Regions from separate parts of the Homo sapiens genome. Here region 1 is linked to region 2. Evidence: fine-mapped expression QTL. A gene starts in region 2. The other region holds a variant in brackets. All regions are shown on one strand. Distances are from middle to middle.

Evidence for each region. PIP is the estimated chance that this variant, and not a neighbour inherited with it, causes the effect.
Region 1: its variant is the best candidate, but not a certain one, in a credible set for the expression of ETV4 in aorta (GTEx, PIP 0.87).

What each region holds. Positions count from the first base shown.
Region 1 is chr17:43,824,999-43,829,381 of GRCh38, forward strand. It overlaps MPP3 (MAGUK p55 scaffold protein 3), which reads right to left. Exons shown (of 20, transcript NM_001932.6): 8 at 2,753-2,834; 9 at 758-843. Among named protein-coding and RNA genes, the nearest start is that of MPP3, 6.0 kb to the right of the region's middle. The variant C/T (reference allele first, on the strand shown) is at 1,906.
Region 2 is chr17:43,544,463-43,548,845 of GRCh38, forward strand. It overlaps ETV4 (ETS variant transcription factor 4), which reads right to left and starts at 1,878. Exons shown (of 13, transcript NM_001079675.5): 1 at 1,723-1,878; 2 at 1,096-1,206; 3 at 812-905; 4 at 513-560. The coding sequence starts at 1,155. It also overlaps a transcript of DHX8 not described here. RefSeq lists enhancers at 467-1,244, 1,245-2,022, 2,144-2,303 and silencers at 1,074-1,133, 1,174-1,223, 1,674-1,793, 1,844-1,983, 2,004-2,053.

The DNA.
Region 1 (4,383 bases), 280 kb after region 2:
CTGACCTCAGGTGACCCACCTGCCTCGGCCTTCCAAAGTGCTGGGATTACAGGTGTGAACTACTGAGCCCAGCCCAGAGAGGGCTTTAAACAGTGGGCCTCCTCTTTTCAGATCTCATCCTGTTTCTGCCCCCAAAACCATCAGAAGTTAGCAGAGTGTCAGGTCAGGGGAGGAATCCTGAGGATAAAGGGGACCAAGCTATGATTGGGGCTTTTCACAATTTCAGTTTTGACTTCAACTCCCCAGAATGGACCATGGAGGTTTTCAGCCAAGCATTTTATACCTTAAAATCCCCTTACACTTCTGAAGGGCTTTACCCTTTTCCAGATGTTAGCATGCCAATGATAACCACACATTGGTTGAGAAAGAAACTCTATCCCAACGTTAAAGGAAAGGAAATGGAAACTCAGATGATCTGATGGCTTGTCCAAGGTTGCACAGCTGGAAGGAGGCAGAGCCAGGATTCACACCCAGGACCCAGGACCCAGGAGGGGCCTTGTGAAAGGGAACCAGGGGAAGGAAGGAAGGCTGTGCTGAGGAGAAGGTCTAAGAGAGGCAGATGGAAGGGAAGTTCCCCTCCTCCTGCTGCCACCCCATACCCCGGGCACACTGTTAGGGGCACACCATAAGGCCACTTTGCCTGCCACCTCCTCAGGACAACAGCAAGGCTAAGCCAGAATCTGTCCTGGCTCCAGGAAGTGCCTTGCTCTGGGTGTCTGAAGACCCAGCACATCCCTAGCAGGCTTGTAGCACGGACCAGAATCTGGCTGATCTCGTCGGGCCGCTTGTGCAGGACTGCGATCCCGTTCACTTCTCGGAGCTCATCTCCAACGTGGACCAGGCCTAGGAGACACAGGGACTGACCATCAGCACAGGAGGAGGACCTGAGCACCCCTCGCTCAGAGCTCCAAGCACCACAGGGGCCGGCCTGAGAAGCCCACTGCAGGGCCAACTCGAGGTTTAAAGTTGATGGGTGGGACTGGGGCGAACTAAGCCCTGCTAAGTGCTGGGCACCTCACTCGGCATGCAGGGCTCAAATCACCCAGTAAAATCTCCAATTTACAAGTTGGCACCTGAGACCCAGGAAGATTAAGCAGCTTGCCTAAGGCCACATTGCTGAGAAATAATGAAGCCAGTATTCAAACACAGTTATTATGATGTAGAAAGCCTGTGTTCTTTTTGCTATAATCTCTGCTTCTTTAAAATTATCATTAACTCTTAGAATGGCATTCTTAAGTCTTAACAAGGAAAGACAAAGGCACCAATGAAGACATCATTAAGAGTGTAAACACACTATGAGCCTCTGCCTGAATGACTAATGTCTCTGCATATTAGGGCCCTATATGCTACTCAAAGTGGGCACTGGCCCGGCTGCATCAGCATCACCTGGAGGCAGGTTAAAAGTGCAGAATCTTCGGCCTAGCTCAGACCTGCTGAATCAGTCTGCATTTTAACAAGATGCTCAGGGAATTCGTGGACTCGTTAATGTTTGCAAAGTGCTGGTCTAGGATTCTCTGCAACGATGACCCCCCAGACTTTGGGGGTAACATCGCCCTATACCAGGAGGTTTGTCTCCCAGCTTAGTAGCTCTTCCACACACCGGTGATTCTCAACCTTTCTACCCAAACGAATCTGGGGCACAAACACTCTCTTTGTAATAGTAGCTTGACAAGACCTGGGATGGTGGGGAAGGGTGTCAACCCTGTCCCACAGTTAGTAATCCCGCAAGCCCATGCTATATTCTTAACTGTCACAGTCCTTGGACTAAACCAACGCATGAGCTTTTTCTCAATCACCCCAAAGTACTCCATGACTATTTATATATATATATATTTTTTTTTTTTTTCTTTTTTTTTTGAGACGGTCTCACTGCGTCGCCCACTCTAGAGTGTAGTGGTGTAATCA[C/T]GGCTCACTGCAACCTCAAACTCCTGGGCTCAAACAATCTTCCTGCCTGGGCCTCCCGAACAGCTAGGACTACAGGTGTGGGCCACCCGTGCATGGCCTATATTTTCTTTTTCTTTTTTTCTTTTTTTTGAGACGGAATTTCACTCTTGTTGCCCAGGCGGGAGCGCAATGGCGCGATCTCGGCTCACTGCAACCTCCACCTCCCAGATTCAAGCGATTCTCTTGCCTCAGCCTTCCCAAGTAGCTGTGATTATAGGCATGTGCCACCAAGCCTGGCTAATTTTGTATTTTTAGTAGAGATGGGGTTTCTCTGTGTGGGTCAGGCTGGTCTCGAACTCCCGACCTCAGGTGATCCGCCCACCTCGGCCTCCCAAAATGCTGGGATTACAGGCGTGAGCCACTGTGCCTGGCTTTTTTTTTTTTTTCTTTTTTTTTTTTTTTTGAGACAGAGTCTCACTCTGTTGCCCAGACTGGAGTGCAGCAGCATGATCTTGGCTCACTGCAACCTCCGCCTCCCAGGTTTGTGTGTTTAGTAGAAATGGGGTTTCGCCATGTTGGCTAGGCTGGTCTGGAACTCCTGGCTTCAAGTGATCCGCCTGCCTCGGCCTCTTAAAGTGCTGGGATTACAGGTGTGCACCACCATGCCCAGCTGGCCTATATTTTCTATTAAAATTTCTACTGACTTGGGAAGGAGATGAGAATTCCAGCCACAACCCCAGAAAGCAAAGCAAATCCCAAACAGGTGACCTGATAGGAGGGAGGTAAGGGGACCTATTAGCAAAGGTGGAGGGCTCTGGAACAATGGCCATGATCGGGGCTGGGCCAGCTTTGCACTGCCGCCACTCACCGCTCCTGTCTGCTGCGCCTCCTCGCATGATCCTGGCCACCACAACAGCCCCTGAGTGCTCGTCCCGCCGGATGGTGGCACCCTGAACCCGAGACAGAAGAGACAGGTTCTTAAGCAGCAGCTCCAAACCTCAGACCCCTACTCTCTGGACCCAACACAGCCTCCCCAGTCCCTCCCTCTGACAGTCCAGAGAGATCAGTGGGGACCTTCCCAATGCTGAAGACAAAACAAAACCAACATCCCCCATTAATATAGCCCTGCACTGTACAGTTTACAAGGCACAATAATGCTGCAACATTTTAGATGAGGGACTGGGGCTCAGAGAAGTTAAATATCCTCAAGGTCACCCAGCTGGTAAAGGGGAAAGCTTTTTGTGATGCCAAATCCAGTAAGTTCTCCATCACATCTCTCTCATATCACAGTTCCTACCACTTGCAAAGACATTTAATAATGAGGATGACACGTGCCAGCTAATTCTCACCCTGCCTCTACCCAATCACAGGGTTACCGGGCCTTCTGCTGCTGCTGAGGGAAACCAATTATGCACCCCAGCCAGGGCTTCGGGACCAGGACTTGGCCCATGAAGCACAGCAGAGATGACACTTAGGATGAGAAAGGCACTAACGAGCCCTCGATTTCCTGCACCACACAGGCCGGACTGCAGCAGGACGGCAGAAAGCTTAAGAGCTAAGCTCTAGGGCTGGACAGCCTTGGGTGTGAACACAGTTCTGCCGTTTACAAAAAGCATGTGGACTTAACAAGGAAATCTCTTATCCTCTCCAAGCCTGTTTCCTGTGAGATGTGGGACAGCATTTAACTCACAGTGTTGTTGCAAGGATTCCACTCAAGGCACTTAGTACACAGTAAGCACTCAACATATGTTAACCACTTATTAGTGGCTGTAACTGCAAACACATTTGCACACTTATTGTTAACATCATCTGTGCCATCTATTTGAAGTACGTAAGATAATTATTGCTAGAAAGAGAGGCCATCAGCTAAGAACCTCAGGACTTCTAGCCCCCCAGAACTGAGAACTTTCCAGCATCGCTATCCATCATTTATTCAGCTCTGAACCGCCAGCACCCAATACAGAGCCTGGATAGGAGGGCTCACAATGTGTTTGCTAAATCAATGGATGGCCACTCCATTTTACAAGTGAGGAAACAGAGGCAGAGGAGAGATCCTCGTCTGTTTGCAGAAGAGGCTCGTCGGAGGTCATTTGGGGAAAGTTGGAAATAGAGAATGCCAGCTGTGGGATCCTCTGGAGCCAATCTCAATTCTCTGGGCTTCCACCACTTCTGAGCATCTCATAAACAACGCTGTCCCTTTGCTCGGTAAATCAATGCTGAACCAGGACCAAAGTGATAGCAGTCTGTCTGCTGGGGAGAGGAATGCCCTGTGCTTCCTCAACATTCAGAGCAGGCATTGTCACACGTTTTCTATAAGGGGCCACATGTAAATATTTGAGGCCAGCCACACAGTCTCTGTCACAACGACTCAACTCTGCCATCGCACTATAAAGGCAGCCACAGCCAATCTGTAAGTGAATGGGCCTGGTTGTGCTCCAAAAAAGCTTTATTTTAAAAAATAAGCTGTGGGCTGGTTTTGGCCCTTGGGCTGTAGTTTGT
Region 2 (4,383 bases):
TTGTTGTTCTTTTGGCTTGGACAGTAAATTGTTTGGTGCTGGGGGTTGGGAAGAAGAGAAACCCAGGGGATAAGAATCAATGCTTGGGCAACTCTGGAGGATGAGTGACAAATTAATTTCTCCCCCCACCCCCCACCAACAACACCCCAACATGCACCTTGGCCTGGCGGCTTCTGCAAAACAAACTTTACAAATGAAAATTTCAACCAGGAAAATGGGCCTGGGGCCAAGTTCCATTCAAATAAGCAAATACCCCACACAATGGTCTGATTCATCCTCAAGCCTAGTTACACAAGCCTGGCTCAGGGTAGAGAAAATAAATATCAATATAAGTGTCCACGCTGGGTGCTGGGGTGAGTAGAGTGGCAAGGGACCTGGGGAGAGGGCCTTGGAGAACTCCTTGAGGCAGGGAAGGGAGAGGAGAAGTGTAGGGCTTAGGGTGGAATACCAGGGGCTACGGAGTGTCCCCCTGTCCAGCCTCCCAAAATAGAAAAGGTCACAAAACTACTCACCTTCAGCGAGCCACGTCTCCTGGAAGTGACTTAGATCCTGGAAGAGATCTGAGGGGTAAATAGTGGAATTGGAGGTGAGGTGGAGGGGACGGTAAGAGAGAAGGGGCCCTAGCAAGACCCGGTGACTCCCCTGCCTTGGGAGTAGGGACCGAGAAGAATGACCAAAATCCCTTGGAGGGCGAGTTTTTTGGGGAAACAGGCGGGGGTTCCAGAATCGGCCGTGTGTGTGTGTGTGTGTGTGTGTGTGTGTGTGTGTGTGTGGCGGAGGAGGGTCGCGGTTTGTCTCTCTTGCTCTTTACCTTCAGAGTCGAGGGGCGGCAGGGAGCCCGGGTCCATGAGCTTCCCCAGCGGGCCGATCAGCGCTTCGCGCAAGCTCCCATTTCCGGGCGATTTCTGCGAGAAGCGGGGAGAATGCCCGCGAGTCACCCTGAGGCGCTTAGTCTGGGGGACGAGGTTGGGGTCCTCGGGTGACTCAGGGGCGGGGCAGCCCAGGACTCCGCTGGGACTGCGGGGAGGGGGGCTGTGGTGAGAGTAGGGGCTGGGTGCGGGGCGGGGCGGGCGTGGAGGCCGGCGCGGCGCTCACGCTGCTGAAGGTGTAGGGCACTTGCTGGTCCAAGTATCCGGCTTTCATCCTCCGCTCCATCCGGCCGCTCCCTCCGGCCGCACGGCCGGGGCCCCAAGCGGGGGCCGAGACCTGGTGGGGGAGGGGGCTGCGTTCGCACACCGTCCAGGGAGGGCTGCGATGGGGGCGGGGAGGGGGCAGTCCCAAGGCTCTGGGTCCGACGGCGAAACTTCTCCGACTCACTGGGGCGATGGCGAGGTTTCCGCCTGCCAGGCCGAGCGCCACCACCACTCCCCTCCCGCCAAAGGCCAAAGGAGGTCCCACCTGCTCCCAGGAGCCGGGCTCGCCGTTTCTGCTTTCTGCAGCCCTGCTTTACCCGGGCTCGGTTACATAAGAACGTGTGTGTGTGTGTGTGTGTGTGTGTGTGTGTGTGTGTGTGTGTGTACGCGCGCGCGCGCGGAGGAGCAGGCGAAGCGCACACCATCGCATGCCCACAACTCCCGCGCCCCCTCCAACCCTGAATCCCAGCACCTCCCACCCCCGCCCTGGAATCTGCGGAGGCGGGTGGTGAGAGTGAGTGTGGTGTGCATTGGAGGCGAGGCGGGGAATCACAGACACTCTCCCTCCCTTTCCCTCCCGCAGCCTCACCTGAGGCCGGGGCGTCTGGGCTGGAGCCGCGGGGGGTCCCGAGCATGCCCTGGAGCCCGCACCGAGGGCCGCGGGGCTAGGCCGGAGTAAGGCGGCCCCGGCCCCGGGTCCCCAGCGCACCGACTTGTTTTTCGGGCGCAGCAGACAGTTGTGAGCCCGGGGGAGCAGCTGATTGGTGCATTTCCTTCGCTCGGCCTCAGCTCTCCACCCCCCGCCCCGCCACACCGCCCCCCGTTTCCCTTTGTTTCATTGACTTTTGTGAATGGAACCCCAGGGCTGGGCACGCCCGCCAATCCGGAGAGTCGTCCGGCCTGGCCGGGGGGCGGAGTTTCCCAGCCGCGGGGGCCAATCAGAATGTAGGGGTTGGCTCCCGGCTTCATTCAGTGCTCCGGCTCCCATTCATAAAAAAATAAAACTCGCGGCTGGAGTTCATTCATAAAGAACCGAGAGAAAAAGAGAGAAGCCGAGGACCCCGCGGCTTCTTCACCGTCTCGCCACGGTCTTGGGTCTGATGCGCCGCGTGCTCCTCCGGCTGGCGTCTGCACACGTCTCTGCATCTGCGTGTACGTGGGAGTATGAACATGTCTGTGTGCGCCCAGGAGGGAGGCGACCGGGCTTGTGTGCCCAGAGGAACAATAATAACTAGCATTTATGAAGCGCTCCGCTTCCACGTGCTCATTTCGTTCCCATAACCCGGCGAAATGGATCGTTTGTATCTTACAGATATTAAAAATGAAACTCAGAGAGGGATGGTAACTCTCCTGAGGTCACTCAGCTAGTCAGCACCTCTGGGGTTTACAGCCTCAAATCCCTCACACTCTCCTGTACACCCCTCTGAAGCCATGATTAAATGAGTTAAGCTATGTGACAACTGATACACAGTAGGTGATCAATAAATGTAAACTGGCACAGAATCCAGGCTTTTCCTCAAGGGTCTGTTCTCTGCAGAGCTGTTTTGTGACCCACTTTCTACTGATTGCAGCAGAAACCAGAAGCCCCAGGGTAGATGATTTCCGAAAGTGTAGCTCCCTCTCAGCCATCTTCCCTCTTATCTGAGAGCCAGCAAAAGGAGCAAAAGCCCCAAAGGTTCTGATGATCTGGAGGCAGGATGGGTTTCAGTTTTAGCTAAGAAGCTGGTCATAGTCTCTGTCATCTCATCCATTCACCACTTCTTTCAATAAACATTTATCGTGTCAGATACAGTGCTGGGTTCCAGGCAAGCAGCTATGTCCAAGACAGACATCTGAGGGGACCTGGGGTGCTTGGGCTGTGGCCATGGGGGCACAAAGGACATGAATCCTCAAAGGCCTTTTTGCTGAGACAATTCTCTATGTCTCCAGCCTATGCACTCCTTTGAGGACAGCCTGATTTTTTATCCTGCCTGTTTGTGATAAACACAAAAGAATGTTCAAATGCCAGGCCAGCAGGAGTGGCTTCCCAAATTCATCTAACCTAACACCCGCCACTTTACAGATGAGGCAGTGGAGTTTCAGAGAAGGAAATGACACATGTAAGCTCTTTGGGCCTGTCTGGCCAGAACTAAGGCTAAAACATACAATTGCTGTTTAGTGTTCATAAGGGCTCATTCCATGAGATCTGCTTGTGCAAATGGAAGTAAACTTCCCTTTCTATAGGTGCTGTAATATTCTATAAGGCTCATGTCTATTGTCCCTCTCCTCCAGGAAGCCTTCCATGATAGCCTGAATCAGTTCCTTTAGCCATATACAACATTCTTGACTATATCTCTGGTGTGGATGTTTTTCATCCTGCCTCATGGTATAGACATCCTTATCTATGGAGAGCTCTCCAGAGCTCATTTGCCTCTGAAAGTCCTCCTCAGCCTGTTAGCATGCTTATGAGGGTGGCATGAAATGCTTGTGTAGTGAATAGGTACAATAAAGACCAAATTAATTGAGCTTAGCAGGAACCCTGCCCAAGGAAGGAGAAACAAGCCCAAGCAAATCCCAGCTTTGGGCTGGATGGAACCAGTTTAGAGACAAGTGTGAGTTCTGGCCAAGAGAAGTGGAGAGGAGGACAGAGGGCTCTTCCTGGAAGGCAGCTTTGATGTGGTCTCCATGACAACGAAGAAGAGTCCAGTAGGTCTTTAAGTTGGTACTGGGCACTTCAGTAGGATGGGACCTCTCTAGGGATGCCAGTGCCCCTCTGGTTCTGAGTTTTTTTGTTTTTGTTTTTGAGACAGAGTTTCACTCTTGTTGCCCACACTGGAGTGCAAAGGTGCAATCTCGGCTCACTGCAACCTCCGCCTCCCGGGTTCAAGCGATTCTCCTGCCTCAGCCTCCCGAGCAGCTGGGATTACAGGTGCCCGCCACCATACCTGGCTAATTTTTTGTATTTTTAATACAGACGGAGTTTCACCATGTTGGTCAGGCTGGTCTCAAACTCCTGACCTCAGGTGATCCACTTGGCTTCCTAAAGTGCTGGGATTACAGGCATGAGCCACCAAGCCCAGCCTTTTTTTTTTTTTTTTTTTTTTTGAGAGACAGGAGGGTCTCCCTCTGTCACCCAGGTTGGAGTACAGTGGTGCCATCATAGCTTACTATAACCTCAAACTCCTGGCTTCAAGCTATCCTCCCACCTCAGCCTCCCAAGCAGCTGGGACTACAGGCATGCACTATCATGCCTGGCTAATGTGTTTGTTCA